Homo sapiens: one gene and its partner. The protein of the gene in region 2 binds, or shares a complex with, the protein of the main gene of each other region. Each region holds a gene or a part of one and is shown on either strand. Other genes may lie near its edges. A codon is read from its position in the direction of its gene.

Region 1 (11,820 bases), on a different chromosome or scaffold from region 2:
TGTCAATCACCTAAGGGAATGAGGGAGATAGGGATAGAAGGATGTTGGGGGAGGATATAGGATGGAGCATATACCATATAGAGTAGTATATGGGAAATGGGTGGGCAGAGGAGCAAGCCAAGGAGGGACACCAGACAGACAGGGAAGTGGGGAGACAGTGGCAGGGGTGCCTCAGAATCAAGGCTGGAGGACTTGGGAGATGTTGGGTTGGGGGTGGGACTCACATTATTGGCCTTCATGCCTCCCTGGCCCCGGCGGCCAAAGTGGCCGGTCAGTCGGTGTAGGACAGTACGGCTCCGTCTTCTGGCAGACCGAAATTTCCAGGTGGCTCCCCTTCTACCAAGGGAGTTTTCTGTTGGGAAGAAAGGTGCAGAGATACGTTGGGGCACATCCCTTGCGGCTGGTTAGGCGAAGGCTTCTGACCATTCACACTGCCCGTCCGGACTTGCTGTTACCGTGATTACTGTCCCCGCGGCCTCCTTGGGGGCCAAGTCCTGGGCTTCCACTCTGAGTGATATCCTTGAAGGAAAAGAGGAACAGCACGACCTCCCCCATCTCATTCTTGATGGGCATCATGTCCAGGAGGCACCAAAAGGCTGAGCCTGTAGGCATGGAGAGAGGGAAGGGAGGAGCATGGGCAGCCCCATGGCATGCCTTTCTCCTCATCCCTCTCATCCTCCTAGACATAGTTAAGAGCTTGGCAAAGCAAGAACCAAAAGGAACCTCAGAGATTCTGTCAGCCGATTCCTTCATCTTTCAAATGGGGGAACCCAGGACCAGAGAGGTCAGGGATACGCTCCGTCACAGTCAGCTTTTGGCAGTGTGGGGACAAGCACTCAGACTCCTACTGTGCCCAGTGCCCTCTGGATAAGGCTAGGGGTCTAGGCAGAGCTGCAGGGTGGGGTGAGCCCCCTCACCATCCTTGCGGTAGAAGCAGATTTCAGCCCGGTGCTCCTGGTGGCCCTCCAGGGCTTTGTGCAGACGCTGCAGGGCTGGCTCACTGGTCTCTGGGCCGTAGAGGAAACGGCAGCTGCAGGTCTTCTGCATGACCTCGGTGCGACCGTAGCCTGTGAGCTCGCAGAAGCCGTCGGAGCAGTAGACGATGGGAAAGCCCCGTGTGCCCTGTGCGTTGGCCAGCAGGAAGTTGCTGTCTGTGGGAAGAAGAGGTCAAGGTCAGGTCAAGGCTGGGAGGCGAGCTAGCTTCCAGGTGGGCAGCACTTCCTCTAAGTTGGGGTTAGAAGTCACAGAGCCAGAAGCTTCCCAGGTTTCCATGTTGCTCCTGACCCCACTTTGGGATATTCTGAATTGAGAATTGGAGAAGTTGGAGCAAAGAGACAAGGACTTGAGACAGGACTTAAGCAGGGTCTAACGGGGAGTTGGAGAAGGACCCCAGGAGGTCATGCCATCCATCCCCCTGCCTTCCAACTGGTGAGCTGTCACTGTAGAAGGCAGTATAGCATGGTGAGTAAGAGCCTGGGCTCCTGCAACCCTCCACTGCCACTTACTAACTGTGTGACCTTGGGCAAGTTGATGACCTCTTCTGTGCCTAAGCTTTCCTTATTTGCAAAGTAGGGCATAATAGGCCTTCCTCACATGGTCGTTGTGAGAGTTACATGAGTTAACTTGGGGAGAACAAGTCCTAGCACATGGTAAGTGCTACTCTGAGAAGGTGAAATTTTTTCCCCACATTCACTTGGCTTTCTTCCTATTACAGAGTAAGCAGGGCAGAGATTCTGATGACACCACACCCATTTATTGATAGGAAACCAAAAGGCAGAGATTATCCAAACTCACAGATCTCCTTAGTGTGGGGGCAGACAGTGATGAGTGCTGTCTTCCTTCCCTGCCTTCCAGAGAAGGTCCACTTTTTAGCATTCTTGTAGCTGCTTTCAGGGGATCTGCCCCACTGCTCAAAGTCTAATGGGAGAGGGCATTGAGCGTATAGCTCCAGCAACCCCCAGCAGCAGAACCCGAGCTGTCTCCCTCCAGCTCCAATGGGTGGGAGGCCAGGGGGACTCCTGTGGGCCATCCAGGGACAGAGACTCAGCTAAGAGATGGGGCCTGTGACACAACCAGTCCTGGTGCTCTAGGAGGGATGACTGTCTGGGGGCAGGGAGGCTGATGGGGACACTGAAGGTGCCTGGGAGGCACTGGGCTCTGGGCACAGCCTCCTTCTTCCATCCCAGGGCCTGTTGCCCCGGTGATGGGCGCTATGGAAACAAGGTGGTGGGGAAGAGGGTAGGGCCCGGCGGCTCAGTTTCCGCCCTCGGGTACCGCTCCCCCACCATCCAGATCCCGGCCAGGGTTCCCGAGGGAATGGCGGGGTTGGGGGAGGTGAGGGCGGGGAATCTCTGGGTTCCAGAGTGGGAAGAGGGAATGGCGGGAGAAGAGGCGGGGGAGGAGTGATGTGGCTGTCCAAGGTGCTGAACCTGAAACCCAAGCTACGTTGGGCGAGCTGGGAGTTCCCACCGTCGCACAGACCGCTCCCCTCCTCCTGCCTCACCCACCTTAGACACTGACGCCCCACGATTTGGGGGCGCGCGACCTCAATCCAAACTAGGTCCTGCTGAAGTCTGATCTTTTCTCCTTTTTTTCTGGAGGTAGTGGGAGCTGGAGTCTGTGAGTAGACCCCAGAATGCCCGGCCACTTTGCCCCACTTCTGTGTCTCGGATACCCCCATACACGCCCCCAGCACAGCTCTGCCCGAGAGTGGGCGGCTCCGAAGGACCCTCCTCCGCTCTGCCGCACAAAGAGCCTCTTCTGCCTCGAGTCACACCCCCTAACCTTGGCCCCCGTGCTCTCGGCCCTTTCCCCTCCTCCCCTCGCAGGGCACTCCCCGCCCTGTTCCTGCACCGCGGCTTTGGGAGTTCCTAGACCCGCACCTCCATTCTCTCCCCTCGCCTCGGGTCTCACCATGTCCAGGAGATCCGAGACGGCCCCGAGGATACTTGCCCCCCAGCTCGAACCTCAAGCCCCGACCTCCGTCCCACTCACGCGTTCCGTCAAAACGGGTGGCGATGGTGTCCAGGAAGGTGTTTTGCGGGGCCAGCAACCCCTTCATGACCGGCATGGCCCCGGGGCGTGGGTTCAAGGCGCGGCGCTGGGGAGCTTTCAGCGCGGCCGGGCCGGAGGGGGCGCGCTGTCGGAGGGGCCGGGGCGCCCCATGCGCCCTCCTGCCTCCTCCCCTCCCTCTTACTGCCGCTGCCGCTGCCGCTGCCTCTGCTCCGAACCCCGTAGCTCTCGGCTCGGCTCAGCGCCGTTTCGGTCCCCCCCACCTCCCCACGGGCCAGGTTCTTCCCCTCGGGCTCGGCCCGCACCCGCCACGTGGCCCCACACGGGGAGGGGCCGCTAGCGACACCCGCACCCCTCTGGGCAGCCCTCCTCCCAGAGGGGAGCGGCCCACGCGTGTCTCTCGGGGAGAGAATTCGGGGCACGCCCACCGGGAGGGGAGGCCTGAAATGATGGGCGGGGCTTGAATAACAGACCCGCCCTCTTCCAGGCTGGCCACGCCTCCACACGTGGTTCCCTGGCTGCTCCTTGTGGCTCCACCTCGCGGGTTTTCCCGCGCGGCGTCCACGCTGGGCTGGTGTCTGGTTCACAGTGCCGCCTACTGGAGTTGACATATTTCGCAGCACCCACAGGCCAGTAGCTCCAGCGTGAGACAGCAAGGGTTAAGAGGCTAGTTTGCTGGTAGAGAATGGACAATGGGAAGGCTTGAAACCCCAACTCTAGAAAGCACCATTCTTACCTCCTGCCTCAGTTTTCCCAAGACACCCTGGCGAACTCTGCCTACTGAGACACAGCATGGTGGAATGAAAAGAGCTTTGGAGTCCACCAGGTAGAGTCCCAGCTCTAGACACCAATCGTGTGATATCCTCTCCAAGCCCACTTTCCTCATCTGTAAAATGGAGCTGATAATTCTTACCTGATGCAGTTACCGTGAGAATGTAATACCATAATGCATGTCTTTGGTACAAAATAAGTGTCTTGAAGGGCAGTTGCCTGCCTGTTTTCCCTCTTCCTACTGTCTTAATCCTCCTCTCTGCTGCCCTTCAAGTGGAAGAGAGGCTGGAGGCAAGTTTGGGAGAAACTACCTCTGAAAAAGATAGTTTCGAGGTGGGCAGAGTCATGGCTTGCAAATCTCCAAGGATGCACATGTGAACTTTGACCTCTAACTTCTCCAAGATGGAACCAGTACAGCAGCAAGAGGGACCAAAGTGAGACTAGACACAGGACTTTCTCACTACCTATGCAGAAAATTGAGGCAGCTGAGTTCTGTGGCTGAGGGTGGCTGCTTCCCACGACAAAACAGCTGAAGCAGTGAAAGTGGGAACCCTATGGGCAAGGAGGGCAGGCTAAATTCTCCCCACCCTCTGAGCTAGGTATTATCTGGGATGTTAGATTGCTAAGAAGTGCCACATTTTTCTGTGTCTCTACTTTTGTTGTTGTTGTTGTTCTTGTTGTTCTTGTTCTTGTTGTTTTTGAGACGGAGTCTTGCTCTGTTGCCCAGGCTGGAGTGCAGTGGCATGACCTCAGCTCACTGCAACCTCTGCCTCCTGGGTTCAAGCAATTCTCCCGCCTCAGCCTCCTTAGTAGCTGGGATCACAGGCGTGCATTACAATGCCCGGCTAATTTTTGTATTTTTAGTAGAGATGGGGTTTCGCCATGTTTGCCAGGCTGGTCTTGAACTCCTGACCTCAAGTGATCCGCCCGCCTCAGCCTCCCAAAGTGCTGGGATTACAGGCATGAGCCACGGAGCCTAGCCTGTGTCTCTACTTTTGGATGTTATATTAGTTTCCTAGGACTGCCATAACAAAGTACCACAAAGTGAGTGGCTCAAACAACAGAAACCTATTGTCTCACAGTTCTGGATGCTAGAAGTCCAAGCAAGGTCAGGTGAAGAGCGTTGGTTCCTTCTGAAGGCTATGAGGGAGAATCTGTTGCATGCCTCTCCCCTATCTTCTGGGGGTGGGGGTGCTGGCAATTTTTGGTGTTCCTTGGCTTGTAGGAGCCAATCTCTACCTTCATGTTCACATGGGTTCTCCCTGTGTGTGTTTCTGTGTTCCAATTCCCTTTTTTATAAGGACGCCAGTCACAGTGGATTAGAGGCCCACCCTACTCTAGTATGACCTCATCTTAACTAATTGCATCTGGAAGGACCTTATTTCCAAATACAGCCACATTCTGAAGTGCCACGGGTACGGACTTCAACATATGGATTTTGGGAACACCAGTAACAGGTGTCTTTGGCTGGAGTTGCAGTAAAATCTTGTACTGCCCCTGCTTAAGAATGTCCCATGACTCTGTTACCTACAAGATAAAGTGCAAAGCCCGATGATTTGTGAGAGCCTTTGCGAGCTGTGCTGCACTGACTGTAACTGTGTCCCTTCCTGAGCCTCTCCACTCCCCACACCCTATACCCCATGATGCAGCCATTCTGGATGACTCATTGTTGAAGTTCAAATTCCCTGCCTTTTCAGCAGGATTGACTCCCACCCCTTCCTAGCTGGATTCTGCTGCTCTATGCAGCTTGCCTGCCTTCCTTCCTTCCTTCCTTCCTTCCTTCCTTCCTTCCTTCCTTCCTTTCTTTCCTTTCTTTCTTTTCTTTTTTCTTTTTCTTTCTTTTTTTTTTTTTTTTGACAGTGCCTCCTTCTGTTGCCCAGGCTGGAGTGCAGTGGCCCAATTATGGCTCAAACTCAAACTCCTGGGCTCAAGCAATCCTCTCGCCCACCATACCCCGCTAATTAAAAAAACTTTTTGGAGAGATGTCTCACTCACTATGTTGCCTAGGCTCGTCTCGAACTCCTTGCTTCAAGGGATCCTCCTGCTTTGGCCTCCCAAAGTGCTGGGATTACAGGCGTGAGCACCGCGCCCGACCGCTGCAACCTTTCTTGCTTTCCTTCCCCTTCCGCGTCTCTGGGTAAAGTCCCCGCTACAGAATGCCTAGCAGAGCATCGTAGGAGTCCCGCATGGCCCGATCCAAGCATGCACCTGTGCAGTTCTCTCTGTGCCCCAGGGCCTTGCACTGGGAACTCCCCAACCAAGAGTGTTTCCGATTCAACCACGCAAAAGCTAAGGCTGGTGCCCGACAGCCGGGCTTCCAGGCCCAGCTGTCCTCCGCAAGACGCTTTGCCACCCCGGATGGGCAGGACGCGACCGCACAGGAACAGAGACCAGTCACACGAATGGAGACTCGTCTTTATTGCCTTTTTTCTGGGGGCTGACGCTGGGTGGGCAGAGGGCAGAGGCCTGGGCCAGGACAGGGCCCGAAGAACGACTCAGATCCCGGACTGTCCTCCGGGCGCGACGGAGGCGGCGGCCGGGGCGGAACAGCGGCGCCCGAGGCAGGGGCGCGGCGCTGGCTCTGCGCCTGCGCGGCGGCCCATGGTCAGGATGCCCGCGGCGTGGTTGCCGCTGGCCTGCAGGAGGCGCTGCAGCCGACCCTGGAGGCCCGGGGGCCCGGACCTCCGCTTGCCCAGCGTGAGGATGCCGGCCGCGTGATTGCCCGCGCCGTGCAGCAGCTCGTAGAGGCGGCAAGAGCAAGTCTTTTGACGACAGCAGTCGGGCAGGGGCTGTGCAGCCGCCCCGGACGACAACAGCGCGGGCGGCAGCAGCAGCAGCAGCAGCAGTAGCGTCACGGCGGCCCAGGAGACCTAGGGAGACGGAGACAGGGCGCTGGGGGGGTCTTCCCACGGCGCCCGCCACCAGCTCCCACGCCCAGGACCTGCCCCTCTGGCTCCGCGCCCCCTCCAAGCCTGCACTCCTTTCTGGCTGTCACTTAGTTCTCCTTGCTTTGCGCCCTTGCTGGTATCGGCCTACTTTCCCTGCTCCTCCTTCAAGACCCAGCAGAGCATCTCCCCCAGGAAGCCTTTTGAGACCCCCTGGGCAGAGTGAATCCCCCTTTTCTCTGGAGACTTAGGCCACTGTGCCACCACTAGGGCACTTGCCACTCCACCTGAAAACAGGAGTGTCTGTCTGCAGCAGAAGTTGTAAACTTGGGAAAAACCCGGGCCCTACTGAGTCCCCCCAACTTCCTCTCCACAGCAGGGAAACACATGGAAATCAGGAACTAGCAAGACTCCAGAATGCTCTCTCATCTGCCTGCCCCCTTGCAGGAGTGACTGAACTCCGTTGCTTTGAACCAGTTTCCTGCCCTTTCAGAGGGCACAGCTCCCTTACCTGTAAACTGGGTATACTAGAAATAATTTCTACTCTGCAAGGCTGTTGGGAGGATGACAAGAGATGACAGGTGCAAACGGAGCACCTGACACATAGAGCTCAGCAAACACAGGCTCTTAGCAAAACAGCACCCAACCCAATGTGAGCCAAGGCAGGTGCTCCTGCCTCAGAGCACACCCAGGAAAAGACCAAGAGTGGAGACACCTTTGGCCTTTCTTCCAGCCCTCTGAGCAAGCACTCTTTTTGCTTCTCTGGGATGGTGAGTCACCCCTCCATCCCTGGATCTTTACCTTTGTGGAAGGAAGGTTCATGGTGTCTGGCGCTCAGGGTGGGGTAGCCGGGAAAGGAGATGTCTGTGGTGGTTCAAAAAGCCAGGAACCTTGAGGCTGTCAATTGTGACCCACTCCCAGGGGTCTGGGGTTTATAGTGCTCTGAGGTGGCGGGGAATTGACAGGCACTTGCGTCCACACCCAGGCCAGACAAAGGCAAGTCTAAGATTAGCCTGCTGCAGGGGGGCCGTCTCCAGGCTGGGCCCAAGGAATGGCCGCTGCGGCGTTCAGAGGCCAGGGTTGGATCACTGTGCCCCTGATCACCCCCTTGTCTGTCTATCTGCTCCCTGGAGATGGGGCGGTCTCCGGGCACTAATGAGGCCACCTTGCACCCAGGAATCTGGGAGCACAAAAGAGGCGCTGGCCTGGGACAATATGGAGGGAGGCAGCTGCTAATTAGGGGCGGGAGAGAGGCAGACGCGAGACCCCACATTATGTGTGTGGGGGGTGGAGCAGCCAGCAGCAGTCCTCTCCCTCCCCTGCTTCTTGTCGCTGCTCCTGGGGACTGTCAGGCTCCAGGACCTTCTTCCTTCATGGAAAGGCTCCTTAGCTGCCCCCTCCCCCTAGCTTTTTTTCTCCCTTCTGCCCTTTCCACTAGCCTCTGAGATGGAAAACCTTGAAAACTCAGCCTAGACAGTGGGAGGTAAGAAGCCAAAACCAAGCCCAATTTCTCTTTCTTTCTTTTCTGTGTGTGTGTGTGTGACTAAATTTTGGTCTTGTTGCTCAGGCTGGAGTGCAGTGGTATGGTCATCTTGGCTCACTGCAACCTCCGCCTTGGGTTCAAGCGATTCTCCTGCCTCAACCTCCTGAATAGCTCCTGAATAGAATTACAGGCACACGCCACCACAACCAGCTAATTTTTGTATTTTTAATAGAGACAGGGTTTCACCATGTTAGCCAGGGTGGTCTCAAACTCCTGACCTCAAGTGATCCACCCACCTCAGTCTCCAAAAGTGTTGGGATTACAGGCGTGGGCCACTGCACCAGGCCCCCCCGCTTTTTTTTTCTTCCTTCCTTCTTTCCTTCTTCCTTCCTTCCTGCATTTCTTTCTTTCTTTCTCTCTCTCACTCTCTCCCTCTTTCTTTCTTTCTTCTTCTTCTTCTTTTTTTTTTTTTTGAGACGGAGTTTCACTCTTGTTGCCCAGGCTGGAGTGCAATGGCGCAATCTCAGCTCACTGCAACCTCCACCTCCAGGGTTCAAGCAATTCTCCTGCCTCTGCCTTCTGAGTAGCTGGGATTACAGGCATGCGCCACCATGCCTGGCTAATTTTGTATTTTTAGTAGAGACAGGGTTTCTCCATGTTGGTCAGGCTGGTCTGGAACTCCTGACCTCAGGTGATCCGCCTGCCTCAGCCACCCAAAGTGCTGGGATTACAGGCATGAGCCACCATGCCTGGCCTTCTCTCTTTCTTCATTTTCTTTTCTTTTTCTTTTCTTTCTTTTTTTTTTTTTTTTTTGAGACAGTCTCACTCTGTCGCCCAGGCTGGAGTGCAGTGGCGCGATCTCGGCTCACTGCAAGCTCCGCCTCCCGGGTTCACGCCATTCTCCTGCCTCAGCCTCCTGGCAGCTGGGACTACAGGTGCCCGCCACCACGCCCAGCTAATTTTTTGTATTTTTAGTAGAGACGGGGTTTCACTGTGTTAGCCAGGATGTTCTCGATCTCCTGACCTCGTGATCTGCCCGCCTCGGCCTCCCAAAGTGCTGGGATTACAGGCGTGAGCTACCACGCCCAGCCCTCTTTATTTTCTTTCTTGAGAAGGTTTCACTCTGTCACCCAGGCTGGAGTGCAGTGGGACAATCATAGCTCACTGCAGCATCAAATGCCACGGCTCAAGCAATGCTCTCACCTCAGCCACCCAAGTAGCTGGGACCACACAGATGCATGCCACAATCCCTGGCTAATATTTAAATTTGTTTGTAGAGACTGGGACTCCCAGGCTGGTCTCAAATCCCTGGCTCAAGCCATCCTCCCCCTTCAGCTTCCCAAACTGCTAGGATTACAGGTGTGAGCTACTGTGCCTGACCAAACTCAGTTTCTACCAGAGGCTGATAGAAAGCTTCTACCTCCCCAGCTTTCTCCCTGGCTCAGGCTACCTGGAGGGGAGGAATGTAGTCCCACTCTACAGTCAACACGGAGTGAGCCGCCATGCATTGAAGAACACATGTCATCTCCAGGCCCAAGCTTCTTATTCACAACCTCTTTTTTTTTTTTTTTTTTTTTTTTTTTTTTTTTTTTTTTTGGAGATAGAGTTTCACTCTTGTTGCCAAAGCTAGAGTGCAAAGGCACGATATTGGCTCATTGCAACCTCTGCCTCCTGGGTTCAAGCAATTCTCCTGCCTCAGCCTCCCAAGTAGCTGGGTTTACAGGTGCACACCACCATGCCCAGCTAATTTTTTGTATTTTTAGTAGAAACACAGTTTCACCATGTTGGCCAGGCTGGTCTTGAACTCCTGACCTCAGGTGATCTGACTGCCTCGACCTCCTAAAGTGCTGGGATTACAGGCATGAGCCATGGCACCTGGCCTACAACCTCTTTATTGAGCTCCTGCTGCATGCCACACCAGGCACTGGGCATGGGGGCAATTGTGCACAGGATCTAGCCCAGTTTCCAAGGAACTCATATTCCAGGTGGGAGGCAGTTCAGGCATAATGATAGTTCAGTGAAGGAGAGGACTACTGCCCACATGAGCAAAGCTGAGCCAGTCACTCTGCCTGGGGTGGGCCTGGTAGGGGGTCCTCAAAGGCCTTGCATGAAAGCTAGTTTACATCAGGGGCAGCGGGATAGAGGGCATTACATAGAAGGGACAACTTGAGCAAACTCCTGGAGTTGACAGTGCTTAACAACCCTTAGATGGGAGGTGAGGCGTGGTCCTTAGTCCAGGCCTTCTTTCAAGCAAGGGGAGAGAGGTAGCTGCACATGTAGGTGAGGGCCAAGGTCAAAGGGTCTAATAGGCCAAATTGATTGGTCTTAATCCTGTGGGCGATGGGGGCCACCATGGGAGGTTTTTTTTTTTGTTTTTTTTTCCCGAGATGGTCTCGCTGTGTTGCCCAGGCTGGTCTTGAACTCCTGGGCATGAACCATCCTTCCACCGCAGCCTCTTGAGTAGCTGGGACTATAGGCCCATGCCACTGTGCCCAGCTTCACAGGAAGATTTTAACAGGATGGAGTGACAGGCGGAGGTGGGGGCCGGGTGGGTATGCAGCCAGGACCTGGGTGTGGGACATGGAATGGAGAAGCTATTCAGAGGCATCTGGATCCAGTGCTGCCTCTACTGAGGAGGAGCTGAGGTCTGCCCCTCCCATCAGCCTCCAAGATGGAAAACCTTAAAACTCCAGTCCAGGCAGTGGGAGGGAAGGAAGCCAAAATCTAGCCCAGTTTCTTTCTTTCTTTTATTTTAGCCTCTACAACCTTGTGGAGGCTGCGTTTCCTCATTAGTATGGAACAGTGAACCCAGATGGTCTCCGGAGTTGCTTCCTGCGGCGATGCCTTATGATGTGAAGTAATAGCTCTCCCTTCCCCACCGCAGAAGTGGTTTGTGGGTGCTGGCCTAGGATGTGCCACGAGTCCTCCAAGGCTCCTGTGTGCGCATGCAGCCTTGCCAGGCCCAGAGCAGAATGTTGGGGGAAAGTCCTGGAGCTCAGTGGGGGAATGGCTGGGCCGGGGTCCACTCCCGTTTCCCCAAAGCAGACCCTGAGGCAAGAATCTGGGTGCAAGAGGTTTATTTGGGAGCCATCCCAGGAAGCCCAAGGCGGGGGAGTGGGGAAGAGAGGGAAGGGAGAGCCCCCGCAGGAAGTACATGAATGAGTGGGTTACTGCTGCGGGCAACTGGGACTCCATCCTGCTGGGCATCCTCTGAGAGTTTATGTAGAATACACTTCAGAATTGTCCTGCTCAAGGACAATGAAGCTGAGGTCCTGCTCCTTATTGACTCAGGGTTGCTGCTCCTGGGGACATTAACCCCCCAACACTTCTAGCTTGCCCAGTGCACTGACTGAGCACACAGCTGTGGCCACCAGAGAACCTCTTTGGGCTGTGATACAGGAAACCATCGGTGTGCATGGTAACTCTCTAGCAGTGTCCTTCATGCCGGGACATGGGGACACGGGCAGGCACTGCTGGCATCTGCTAACCCCGGAGGCCCATACTTCAGAACCGGTCAGCTGGGCCAAGGCCTCTCTAAGGCCCAGCGGCTCTCATGGGCAAATGTCAGGTGACACAGAGTCAGAGACCCTGGCCAAGGACTCCCCATCCGGAGAGGTCCCAGAGGGAGGGGCGAGGTGGCCTCTGGGGGGAGCTGGGCGGTGGGGCAGG
Region 2 (13,231 bases):
GATTTAATTCATTTACTTGGTTAAGAGATCACTTCTCATTGTGAACAAAGGTGAAATGAAAACATTTTATACTCAGAGTCAGCAATTCAAAAGACTGGTCATATGGGTCATGTGTTTCATCCAATAGCATCTCAAACTCTTTCAAAGTCAGTATCTAAAGGTCATTTCATGTCTGATGTAATAGGTAATGATTCTTCATACATATAATATATTATTCTGATCCAGGAACACTGTCCGGTGATATAGAAATTGACCTGTTCACGTCAGGCACAGTGGCTCATGCCTGCAATCCCAGCATTTTGGGAGGCTGAGGTGGGTAGATAACAAGGGCAAGAGTTCAAGACCAGCCTAGCCAAGATGGTGAAACCCATCTCTACTAAAAATACAAAAAAAAAAAAAAATAGCTGGGCATGGTGGCATGTGCCTGTAATCCCAGCTACTGGGGAGGCTGAGGCAGGAAAATAGCTTGAAGCCAGGAGGTGGAGGCAGCAGTGAGACGAGATTGTGCCACTGCACCCCAGTCTGGGTGACAGAGCAAGACTCCATCTCAAAAAAAAAAAATTAAAAAAAGTTCATCTATTTAATAAAATCAATAGCAACATGATTTGTTTAAATAAATACTATTTATTTGGCAATGCATGACAAAAAGAAAAATAAACAAATATCTGTAGATTATGTGAAGTGTTAAGTGTTTAGGCTCTCAGGCTCAAATTGTGTCTAAAAATAGCACTTTCAATAACAAAATAATCCTTGGCCACAATTATCTAACATTTTTTTTCCAGTGAGTCAACCCCCTGAACAGGTAAAAGCATTTTTGGCAGCACCTATTTTACCTTGAAATTTTCTCTTGTAAAGTAACCCTAGCCCGACCTTGATTGGCTTATCAAATGAGCTCATCCTCAGAGCTGAAGAACTGTAGTCTATCAGAAAAACAGCATGGCAACATGCCCAAACAACTCTGTAAATTGTCTAGAGGGCACATCTAAGTATCTCTTCCTTCCTCTTTTTGCCTATGCATCTCCAGTCAGGGTTAGAAGCTAAGGAAAGAGGCAGGATGAAGTAATGGAATAAGCATGGACCATGGAATTTGTTAAATCCATATTTGAAACCTAGTGCTGCTATTTACTGCCTGACTAAACTTTTGAGTAAGTTAGCATTGCTCTTTGAATTCATTTTTCTTATTTGTAAAACCTATTAATCTTCTCATTATAAGTTTGTTGTAAGGCATCAATAGAGTATATGTAAGTGGAGCCTGACATATAGTACCTGGCATATAGTACCCAATAAATATTCAACAAATTTCCTTTGCAGGGAAAAAAGGAACTGAAGACAAATACCGTCAGCTTCACCAATCACATGTCATTGACTGAAACATACTTAATAAAGCCAGCATTCCTTAGGGTGGAGAAGATGTCAGAATGCTATAAGAAGAAACATGGAAGGATCTTCTTTCACTAGTTAAATAACATCAGCAGTGGATGTTTCGGAGCGGAGTGAGAATATGGAGACTTTGAGATGCTAACATAGCTGCAGTACATGAAAATTTTCAAATATAATCTAAAATACAAAATAAGGAAAATTAATATAAATCATATGATACAATTTAGTATGTAGGCACTACTACAATCAAGACAGTTTTCTAAAAACTGGAGCATTGTGTTTATGTTTGAGTTTTAGATTTGGTCTCTTGAAAACTGGTATTTTTTAATTATCCCATTTCCCAAATATATTTTTTCAAATACAGAAATAACTCATTGCATTTAAATTATCAGTTGCACATGTTATTCTCATTATTGTCTGTCCATGATAAATGTTGCTGTTATCTATGAAATAGCCATCTTAAAAGTTATCATTGGGATTTTAAGTCAAAGATATAATTTATTTTACTAAGTAAGACTAAACAGTTATGATTTTAGCAAAAATGTAGAGGCATCAGATTAATTCTTATTCAGATTAGCATGTTTGCATTTTAAAACTAAAATGCACAATAGGTTTAAAGCCTAATAGTTAATATTACCTTTTACAGTCACTATTCATGATTCTATTGAGTCTTGGCCGAGATGAGTGATGTATTATTTCTATATCTAAAAAGGGTTTAGAAATAACCCCTTTTTGCTTCCTGTGTAGGTAAGGATGGGTTTACAAACACCCATGAAACTAAAATGGGCATTCGGAGAAGCAGAAAATAAATGTCTCTAGGCTTAGGAGTAACATGAACTTGCAATTCTACCACTTACATATCTGACACAAGACTAACTCTGTAGGAAGCAAACTTATTACAAATATTTCCCCATTCCACACACCTAACTTGGGTAAACTGTTATTAGGTAAATTACTTAATGGATAATTTATTTTAACTATGAATACTTCACAATGTATTTTAACAATGTATGAGTTAAATCAACATATTACCAATGTGTGTGTTATTTAAAACACTAGTAGTGATAGACCTGCCTATCAACAACCTATTAACAACTCAAAAACTCTAAATGAATGGGACCCAGCACAGGCAAATTTAAGTTGAGAGAGAAAGCAAACTATTCCAATAGTTAGGAATGGCTTTCATTTAAAGGCAAGAAGGCAATGTTAAGCAATCAGTATGAAGGAGATGGGTGGGTGGAGCTAGTGTGGAAAAGGAGAGTAATGTGTGCCAACACCATTTTATTCACACCTTTTAGGAAAATATGCAATTAAGGAAAAGGCTGGGGCAGAGGCCATAAAGAGCTACAGAGATACAGACTGGCCCATGAAGGCAGAAGCTGGCTATACACCACATCACAAAAAGTTCAGTCATGAAAATTAAGGGATAAAAATTGACATTAATTAGTGTCTATGTGTCAAGAAAAATATGTATATGCCTGTGTCCCTTTATATGTCTTTATAGAGGGTATACGTACATTATATCCTGATACTATTTCTATAATGCAGTCATTATCGATCTTTAATTTGTAATTATAAAAAAATTGACTTGGATAGTTCAATAACTTGCTAATGGCACACAAGAAGCAAGAAGCATAGCTAGACTGATGTTTTCCTATTTTCCATATGGAGACAACAACAGATATGACAGAAGCATACCAGATGAAACATATGATATCTTTGAATGCAGATATGAGAAGCAGAAAATTGATCATTTTCCCTAGGTACTTAATGTTTAAACTGACTAGAACACATTTCTCCCTACAATTGTCATTCAAGGAATCAGGAGTAAAAATTAACATCAGTCACATTTCTTTACATTTCCCCAGAGGCTCCCCTGATATACACACTAATTTAAAAAAATGATAATGCTCACAATATACCAATTGAATAAGTTGATACATCTACTTAGCTGTAGTAGAAGACATAGTTAGGAATAGGTTATAGGTGGCATTATTCTGAAGATACTGAAAAGATACTCCTTCCAAAAAGAACCTTACCCTATGCTCCTTCCTTAGAACTTAAAATTTCACATTAAACATGCTTACAGCTTTTCATTGAATGTAAATACTCATAACATTCTATTTAAAACTTTACTCCCCCAGGAAACTGCTTTCCATCTTTGGGAGGAGTATATGAGAGTGGAGAGGTGGCATAGTGATAAAGAGGGACTATGGGGAGAAGAAAAAGAGATGAGGACAATCAAGACTTTGTTATGCTACCCACAGCATATCCTATTACATCACTTCATGAAAGGACATTGTGGAGAAGATGACTTCTAACTGATGGCATTATATTTGTAAGCCCAAAAAGGTTGAGATTTTCCAAGCAGTTATATGAAAGTACAAATGGTGACTGGACCTGAAGGCTCAGTGATTACATCTGCTGCCTACACTGTGGTATTTTACCTTCATACTTAATATTGCATCTTTATTTTGCATAAATCATGTGACATCCTGTCCTACCACTCTATGTGCAAAATTACTTATACCAGAGGGGCAAAGAAGCAATTCTCAATCTAATTCATTTTGCAAATTTGACAGTGACATCAAAGAGCAGGAAGTTGTCTGTGAGTAACGACACTACTCGTTTGTTTAAATGTCAAACCTAAACCTCATCAACTTTCAGGCAGTATGTCAGAAAAGAATGCATTTCAGTTCAACCAGAGAGGATTTCAGTGTTATTCAGTCCTGAGGAAAATAGCTGTCAGTTTCTTTAAGGCAGAGTGCTTTGAGTAAATCTTTCTTTTTAGGCTGAATGGAATTGGCCATTTCAGCACTTGGGGCTGTGGACAGTGCTATCTTCCTTGACATTATGAAACAAGTAGCCTTACTGTAGAGGTGTTTCCTTCTTGAAACTAAAACTCCCCAGGCTAGCAAACATGTATCCCTAAACTATGCAATTAGGATATGGAGACTATTCACTACAAGGTCTATGCAAGGTAAAAATGCAATAACAACAAAGAAGAGCACATTTTACCACAAAGATTCAGCCGAAAATTAAAATAAGGAAGGCAAATAGTTACTATTGATAGCTATTCATAAAAAAATTACTGCTTCTCTGGAAAGGTTTTTGGTGAAGAGAATGACAGTGCCATTAATCCCTCATTGTACTTTATTGGCAGTGGGCGTTGATGCAGAGGAGAACAGGAACACATCTAATAAACTTGCAGACAATCAGGAGCAGAGAATCTATTCTCTATATGCTTTTTAGCTCTAGAGTGGAATAACAATGGAGAATTCTGGATCTGAGGTCAGAAAAAATGGAACTGAATTTAAATTATGTCCCTTAATACGTCATTTTATTTCTCTAAGTCTTGTTTCTTCTTCTGGCTAATGTGGGTTATTTTGATATTTAAGGGAGAGAATGTACATGAAGGGCTCTGGCACACAGTAGGTACTCAATATATGTTCAATTTTGATTATTCACTTATCAATAAGTGTTGGCATAATGCAGTAAAATGTTGCTATGCTGGTAGCCATGTGTCTTAAGAGATGTAATCCTAAGGATGGGTAACAAGAAGAAGGAAAGCAAGATTAGGATTATTATCAACAGAATTATGCTTATAACAAGAATCCTAATCTTGTGTATTTCCACTTTTGTTTCATTTTGTTAGTATCCCAAAAAGATTTCCTTTATTTTTACTTTTAAATCAACCAAAGGAAAACAGTCTAAAAATAATATTTAAAAATGTACTAAAGTTCTCAGAGGTTTCTTGTCTCCTCAAATAACATTCTACCAACACTCTGGAGAACTCCTGTCATTCACATACTATCATCTATTCTGCCTGCTGAGTTGGTGAGAGACTACTCGGGATGATTTCTACCCAGACCAACACACTTGGGAGAGAAGGCAAAAATCAGGTTAGTCTGAAAGCCTGATAATTTCCTTGTCAGTCCCCATTGCAGCTACAAGTTCTTTGCTTTTGACTGCAAAGCCTCCCAGCCTATCTCACCTCACTCACCTTCTTCTTCTTTTATAAATGAAAATCAAGAGCAACTCCTAGCCTCCTCCATCTCCTGTCATTTTCAGCAGAGACTTCCTCCACACTGCCCTCTGCATGTGAAAAGTCTCCCAGCCTTCTACTCTTCATTCATCAAGGTACACTCTCCTTCCATTCACAATTTATTTCAAGTTATCCCTCCCTTCCAAAGCCCCTTTTCTGGAGGTATATTCCCCAACTGCCCTAATACATTCCATCATCGCACTCACCATGTTGCCATCTCACCCCCTCCCCAACCCTCAGAAATTGTTTAGGGGGAGGGGGATGAGGGGTCGAGGAAACCCGTGTTTGCATACAGACCTAGACCGGGACAAATAGCCTAGCATTAAGCTTAGTCTCATCTTTGGAGAAAACAAAACAAAACAAAACAACAACAAACAGTTGACATGAATAATTCCTGAGCCTGGCAACAAGCAGACTGAAAAAAAAAAATATTTGGCTGAATGGATGTAAGAATGAATGGATGGATGGATGATTGAGATCTCTGTGGTACTTTTCTCCGATGCCCCTCCTTCTTGCTCCAGGCATGGATCCTGTTTAATTCAGCTTCTATGAGTGAGTGCACTTCCCTGCTTTGCCTCCGTCTCCACTCCCTGCTGGTTCATTACCACCTCTTGACTGGAGACTAAACCTCCTCGCCAAAGGGCAATGCCACCTAGCTCACAAATGCTTTGTGACTTCCACAGCCACAGAGAGCTTGCTCCTTAGGGATGTAGCTTTGTATTCTGCAAGCTCTGTCTCGTCCCAACCCCCCTGAAACACCCAGCCACGTTACACAAAGGGATGACTGACTCCCCCACCTACCCACCCACACACACACACACTCAACAAAATCCACCTGGAGATCCCTGCCGCGGCCCCTCTCCCTGCGCTTGTAATCTAGGTGCTCGAAAAAGAAACGCGGTTTCCCCGTTATTCCTGCAAAACAGGGAATAACCTTTCCAGGGCTCGGTCCCGGTTCGGAAAATCAGAAAACTTTCTATTATTATTATTATTTTATTAGAAAACCCCATCCGAGAGCAGCGACCTCTTTGTTTGCTTCCCGGGGGAGGGAGGGGTCTCTTTAGAGCCTTCTCAGCCCGGGGCGGAGAGGGGGTGATAGCCCCTAGGAGGGCTGCCCGGGAGGAGACTCACCCAGGACGTTCCCAATGAGAGCCACGACGAACACGATGATGTACCCGGCGATCAGGACCCACTCATATTCTTTCGGGTGCAGGTATTCCCTCCACAGGTACCGCAGGAATTCCTCGTCGTCATAGTCGGTGGGGTTTAAAAAGGGCTCTTGAGTTTCATTCAGCTCCGAAGCAGATGACCAGTTGCGACAAGGGGGGGAGTCCTCCAATTTGGTGCCGGACATCACGGGCTCAAGTCCGGTTCCGCTCAATGCTGCAAGCTCCTCTCCGCCTGCCCCATGAGCACTGGTGATTTGCGGTGGGAAAGGCTGCGCGGAGAGGCTAGAAGGGGCTCCCGAGCAGAAAATGACGTGAAAAGTTACTGAGCCAATGCCTCCGGAGTCTTCTGCCGGGCAACTTCTGCGGTGGCTTTGCTGTCTTTACAGGCGATGTTGCACCGGGAAGATAGGCAGCTGAGGAACTAGGGACCCGGCACTGGAGGCTGCAGCAATGACACCAGGAGGAGAAAGCTACGTCCGGCTCAGCTGAAGCTCAATTACTCCTCATTCCAGCACTCAGTCCGCAGCCCACAGCCTCCTCCCTCGCTGAGGGAGAGCTGAAGCTGAAGAAAAAAAAAAAAGTAATGAAAACTAATTTAATCTGTTTTTTTGGGGGGTGGGGGGTGAGAGTTAAATCTCTCTCTTTTTCTACTTATTTTCTCTATTTTTACGTGCACTTATTATAAACCATGCACAGACATGCATCAGTCTGTGGATATGACAAAAATGTCAACATACAATTAATACAGAGCATGTTGATACATTTGTCTTTGTAAAGCAAATATAAAAGCAATAAGGAGGTGCCTCTGTGTTTCTCAAGCAGGACAATGGAAAAGTCATTCCAGGCAAACACTTTAACATTTAATATAAACTTATTTTAACATTTGACATTTGCCAACTTAGTACTTGCCGAGTCTTTAAGACATCTCCGTCTTCACTTTCTCCTTAAAATTTGAGAATGAGACTGTTTTTAAACTGAAGGGTCTATTTAGCTGGAATTTGTATTTGCGATAGTTAAGTGTCATGTGAAATAGAGCTACAAATTCTTGAAGGACGCCAAGTGTCATAAATATGATCATAGTTAATGTTGTCAAGCATGACAGACCACCAATATACTCAATGATATTAAACATTCACTGTAGGATGTAGCAATCTAAGCAGAAGTGCTCTCTCTGGTAAATACCACATCCCATTGGGTCTTTCTTCCCATTGATTCAGGGCTGATGTCACCTGCCATTCTCTCATGCACTGGTTTTGTCTCTAATAATAAGTATTCTAGCATTTGTCAGAATGTGAATTCATGATCCTTTTATTCTTAATAAACATGGTAAAAATATTGCATTTAAGTAATTACAATCTTGCACTTGGGAAGAGCCTGGAAATCTTGTCTGAACTTCAGCTTCAGAGTAGAAGCCTCCTGATAACATTGCTGACATGTCCCCATCTAGCTTGAATGTGACCACCACAATTCACTACTTCCATCCTTATGGGAGTGCTCTAAGGGTGAGAAAACTGTTTCTTACATTAAACCAAGGTCTCAAGCCACGATTTGTCTTTTTGAGACTTTTACCTCTAATTCCTAGTTTGCATCTTGGTGCTACACAGAATAAATCTTCCACATGACAATGCTTCACAGATTCAAAATAAACATCACAGCCCCAGCGCTCCTTTATATGCCCTCATGTTTCTTTTTTAGTATTTTTCTTTTCAATGTTGTTCAAATGACAGTAGCTCCCACCTACATCTGTTTGGTCTTCCTTTAGACAATTGTCAATATCTTGCAAAATATGTAACTGGGAGGAAGTAACAATAATATGGTTTGAGTCTTGCCAGTGCAAAAAGTACATTATTCTTTGGATGCAACCAGTTTTTATATGTAATTATTTTTTCAACACACACAAGACATTGGTGGTTTACACTGAGATTTAGTTAACTACCCCACCCCCTCCTCCAATCATAATTTTTCATATTTGTTTTGTGCTTTATGGTTTATAAAATTATTTCATATGCATTTTTAAACCCCTGAGGGCTTAGCTATTACTAACCCCCTTTAATAGATGAGGAAGCTGTTCCTGGGGAAATTAGATGATTTACGAAAGATAAATGGATTAATCAGCAGCAAAACCATCTGTTCTTTCTTCTATTTATAGAATACTTTTTGGGACATAGTACTTCTGTTATTGTATAGATATCACATTTTATGAGAAATATTGTTGTATTTCCCCAATCTGCACTAATTAAATTTCTTTTTAAGAGAAGGGCATCAATGGGCATTTTATTATTTTACCAAATATTTCCTGAGGGTTATTTTTCCACTCTTAGTGATACAAAGTTAAACAGGTTGCTGTTTCCATGCATTTTACTTTCTAGTAAAGTTAGATTAAAAAAAAACAAACTAACAAATACATAGGGAAAACGTTAGGAAGGGATAGATGCTATAATGCAAACCAAACAGGATGAGGTGATGATGAGTAGAAAATCCCAAAGGTCACATTAGAAATGATTGTTCAAAAAGGCTCTATTAAGAGATGATATATAAGCAAAAGACCCAATTGATATGTGCATATATTAATTTCATTCTGTTAATTTGAAGTTTAAACAGACCTTAAATTCTAATGCTATTATCCAAAACATTAGCCATTTCTCCAGACCTGTTGTCACCAGTAAATTTGACAAGTAGGCCTTCTGTGGCTTTGTTCAAGTTCATCGGCATAAATCTGTCAACTTTATACTCTGGCACGATGTCTTCCTCTGATTTATTAACATCTGCATTTTACTCTTCCATGCACTATTCATCTCAAAGTGGGAAAGGTTGTTGCAACTTAAGTTCGGATCTATATTCATTAACATCTGCAAATTCCTTGTCATTGACAATCTATAAATATGGACCCAGTCTGCTATTTCCTAAGTAGTCAGTGTCATTAGCTTTCATTTTGTGGCACTTCAACTTGTCTATACTTCAGTCTTCTCTTCGTAAATCTTCCACCTACAATTAATCATCACAGTAAATTGAAGTTATAAATAACGAGAAATGAAAATATTTTCAAGATTTTATCCTGATACCTGCTTTATTTTATGACAAGCTGTATTTATCTTGATCCTACAAATATTCCATTTCCTTCTATCTATGATTTCTCTGGTGCTTTCTTCTAAATATGTGGTACTCCAATGTCATAAAATATTCACTTAAATCTTCAGATTATTACTTGTTTTCTTTTTTGCAAGTGCACCATAGATAATAAATATTATAATACTCATTTTTGATGTGAATATCTTCCTTAGATCTTTTGATATCTTTTGAAACATAAGAAAGGAATTTCTAGTTCTTAGGTATTACTCTTCTCTTCAATTCAAATATTTCTGCTGGATGTAGGGAAAAGGAATCAATCCATTTTACAAACACAAAAGAAAGCTCTAAATTTGTACCATGATATCCCCTTAAGGTTGTTAAAAGAATTAAATGAATTGATATTTTCAGACCAGTGCCTCACTCCAGTTAGAATGGCGATCATTAAAAAGTCAGGAAACAACAGGTGCTGGAGAGGATGTGGAGAAATAGGAACACTTTTGCACTGTTGGTGGGAGTGTAAACTAGTTCAATCATTGTGGAAGAGAGTGTGGCAATTCCTCAAGGATCTAGAACTAGAAATACCATTTGACCCAGCCATCCCATTACTGGGTATATACACAAAGGATTATAAATCATGCTGCTATAAAGACACATGCACACATATGTTTATTGCGGCACTATTCACAATAGCAAAGACTTGGAACCAACCCAAATGTCCAACAATGATAGACTGGATTAAGAAAATATGGCACATATACACCATGGAATACTATGCAGCCAAAAAAAGGATGAGTTCATGTCCTTTGCAGAGACATGGATGAAGCTGGAAACCATGATTCTCAGCAAACTATCGCAAGGACAAAAAACCAAACACCGTATGTTCTCACTCATAGGTGGGAATTAAACAATGAGAACACCTGGACACAGGAAGGGGAACATCACACACTGGAACCTGTCGTGGGGTGGGGGAGGGGGGAGGGATAGCATTAGGAGATATACCTAATGTAAATGAGGAGTTAATGGGTGCAGCACACCAACATGGCGCATGCATACATATGTAACAAACCTGCACGTTGTGCACATGTACCCTAGAACTTAAAGTATAATAAAAATAAATAAATAAATAAATAAGTAAACATGTGATATCCTACTGCAAATATTATTTGCTATACATATCAATTACTCTGTGTTAATGATAGTTAACATCAATGTACATTTCAAAATAGCTAAAAGAGAGGACTTAACATGCTCCTAGCACAGAGAAATAATAAATACTTAAGGTAATGGATACTCTAAATATTCTGGCTTGACCATTACACATTCTATGCGTGTAACAAAATATTACATGTACCCTATAAATATATACAAATACTATGTATATATAAATACTATGTATAAATAAATATATTATACATTTACATGTATAAATAAATACAATATATTTATATATACAAAATAAATATATTGTATAAGTATATACAAATACTATGTATAAATAAAAGGTAAAAAAGAAATGTAGCTCACAACATTCAGAATAATTCTGTTTAAATACCTAGATTAAATTTTTCTTGTCATTTATTTTAGCTCTTTCACTAACTGGAATATATTAAAAATGAGACGGAAAAATAAATCTCAAACTCAGGTATTTTTTTTTCTTGGTGGTTATAGGTAGGTTGTTTAGAGATCTCATATATGGGCTGTCCCAGATTATATTTTCTTATTCCTGGTGAGAGATCATCTTTTTTGCAGGTGTAACTTTCTATATGCATTTCAGTAAATGTATCTGAGTATCTATTGTGTGTCCAGGAGTTCGGCTAGGAGCTGGGGTATAAGGATTAATAAGACTAGTCTAGCCTCAATGATCTCTCAGTCCATTGGTGAACTGGAAATGTTGCCATTATTGAGAAACTCTGTGAAGGTAGAGAGATGCAGAGTGGCATGGAAGCATGAAAGAAGTTGCTTTCTTTCCTTTGCTGTTGGAATGAAAATAAAATCAAGTCTGAGCACTGTTGGTAATGATGATACTGAGCTTATATATTCCCAAAATAAATGCATTAGCTTTGCAGGAAGTTATCTGGCACCTCTAGGCTCCAAATACTACATTTAAAAAACAATATGGTCTTCAGCTAAATTCTTCTAGAAAAGTCTCAAATCACAGGGGGTCTAGACATTTATAAAAAGGGAAAAGGGGACTTACATAACATGTGTCACTGTACGCACTCTCGGTGGGCTACAGAGAATGAAATAACCTCATGCCCTAAAAGATTAGGCCATGAACAATCAAAGCTACTTGTCACAAATTACCACAAACATTTCTGTCTCTCTGTCTCTTTTTCCTCCAATCTTTCTATTACCTCCCATGCCCTGTTTTAATTATGTCTCTTCTCAGACAAGGTTCTCTCCGTTCCATCTTGCCTCCTGTCCTGCATTATTAGATCTGATATTTTCCCCTTATGTTTTTTATTCAACAAATATATACGAAGCTTCCATTATATGCCTATCTTATGTTGAGCATAGATAAACACTCTTCCTGTCTTATTCAGTGTGTCATGAAAAGCACAGAGTAGCCGGCAAATAATTTTGGTCAGTAAAGCAAATGCCCTAAGGTATACACCTAAAAAGGTCTGAAAATGCAAGCAGAAGAGACATCTATTTTCCCAAAGTGGCGTCAATGAAACCATATGGAAAAGACATTGTTTAAGCTGAGAACTGAAGAATGAATGGTAACCAGATTGTGGGAAGTGAGAGAGGGAGTTGGTGCCAGACGGAAGTAAGTAACTTTTTGTGAGACAAGTAATGTTAGCACTCATTGAGAGATTACATGGGCCAAGCTCTGTGCCAAGTACGTTACATACATTAACTCAATTGATCTTCACAAATCTAGGAGGAAGATTTTATGAATTATTATTCCAATTTTCCAGGTTGGGCAACTTAGTGAGACACTATTTCTATGAAAAACTTAAAAAAAAAATTACCCAGGCATGGTGGCATGTGTCTGTGGTCCTAGCTATCTGGGAGGCTCAAGTTGGAGAATCACTTGAACTCAGGAGGTTGAGGCTGCAGTGAGCTGTGGTCACGCCACTGCACTCCAGCCTGGGCAACAGAATGAGACACTGTCTCAAAAAAAGCATCTATTATTCCAATTTTACAAATGAAGAAACTGACACACAAAGAAGTTAAGTAACTTACCCAAGGTCATATAGCTAGAAAGTGGTGGAGTGTTTAAGCAGAGTTGTCAGGGTCCAATTCCAGAAATACGCTTTTTGCTGTTACTCTATTCTGTTTCCACAGTAGAGAACCAAAATGTTTTCAATTTTCCAGCTGTGTCCTTTACTAATGATAGTTTTAATTCTTAACAAAGACATTTGTAAAATTATATAAATTTTACATATTTAAAAAAATCCAGTTGTATTTTAAACAGTACTGAAAAGTAGAATTATAGGGGAACTTGTTATACTCTTCAGGATGACATCTCCCCCAAAGAGAATCAATCTCCTTCTCTATTCTCTGAGATAAAGATATTTGTTTTTCTCCTAAGGGCATAAATGTTTTCTCATTCATCTTTGTA

The links.
Region 1: the proteins of HCRTR2 (region 2) and HCRT are in contact, whole or in part, in a cryo-EM structure (PDB 7L1U), measured with the Homo sapiens proteins. Residues at the interface, in NP_001371201.1 of Homo sapiens: Thr111, Val114, Trp120, Pro131, Gln134, Thr135, Val138, Gln187, Val209, Cys210, Asp211, Phe227, Thr231, Ile320, Ser321, Asn324, Lys327, Arg328, Phe333, Ala334, Thr336, Arg339, Val342, Tyr343, Phe346, His350, Tyr354; in NP_001515.1 of Homo sapiens: Asn89 (codon at 6,410), His90 (codon at 6,407), Ala91 (codon at 6,404), Ala92 (codon at 6,401), Gly93 (codon at 6,398), Ile94 (codon at 6,395), Leu95 (codon at 6,392), Thr96 (codon at 6,389), Met97 (codon at 6,386).

The regions. Positions count from the first base shown.
Region 1 is NC_000017.11:42,177,876-42,189,695, forward strand, and holds HCRT (hypocretin neuropeptide precursor precursor), read right to left. Parts: upstream 7,578-11,820; 5' UTR 7,491-7,577; coding exon 7,470-7,490; intron 6,654-7,469; coding exon 6,279-6,653; 3' UTR 6,185-6,278; downstream 1-6,184. Other genes in the region: voltage-gated delayed rectifier potassium channel KCNH4, read right to left, coding at 225-352, 456-602, 918-1,151, 2,995-3,070. UniProt on the Homo sapiens protein: Neuropeptides that play a significant role in the regulation of food intake and sleep-wakefulness, possibly by coordinating the complex behavioral and physiologic responses of these complementary homeostatic functions.
Region 2 is NC_000006.12:55,168,136-55,181,366, reverse strand, and holds the start of HCRTR2 (orexin receptor type 2), read right to left. Parts: upstream 6,853-13,231; 5' UTR 6,780-6,852; coding exon 6,557-6,779; intron 1-6,556. UniProt on the Homo sapiens protein: Nonselective, high-affinity receptor for both orexin-A and orexin-B neuropeptides. Triggers an increase in cytoplasmic Ca(2+) levels in response to orexin-A binding.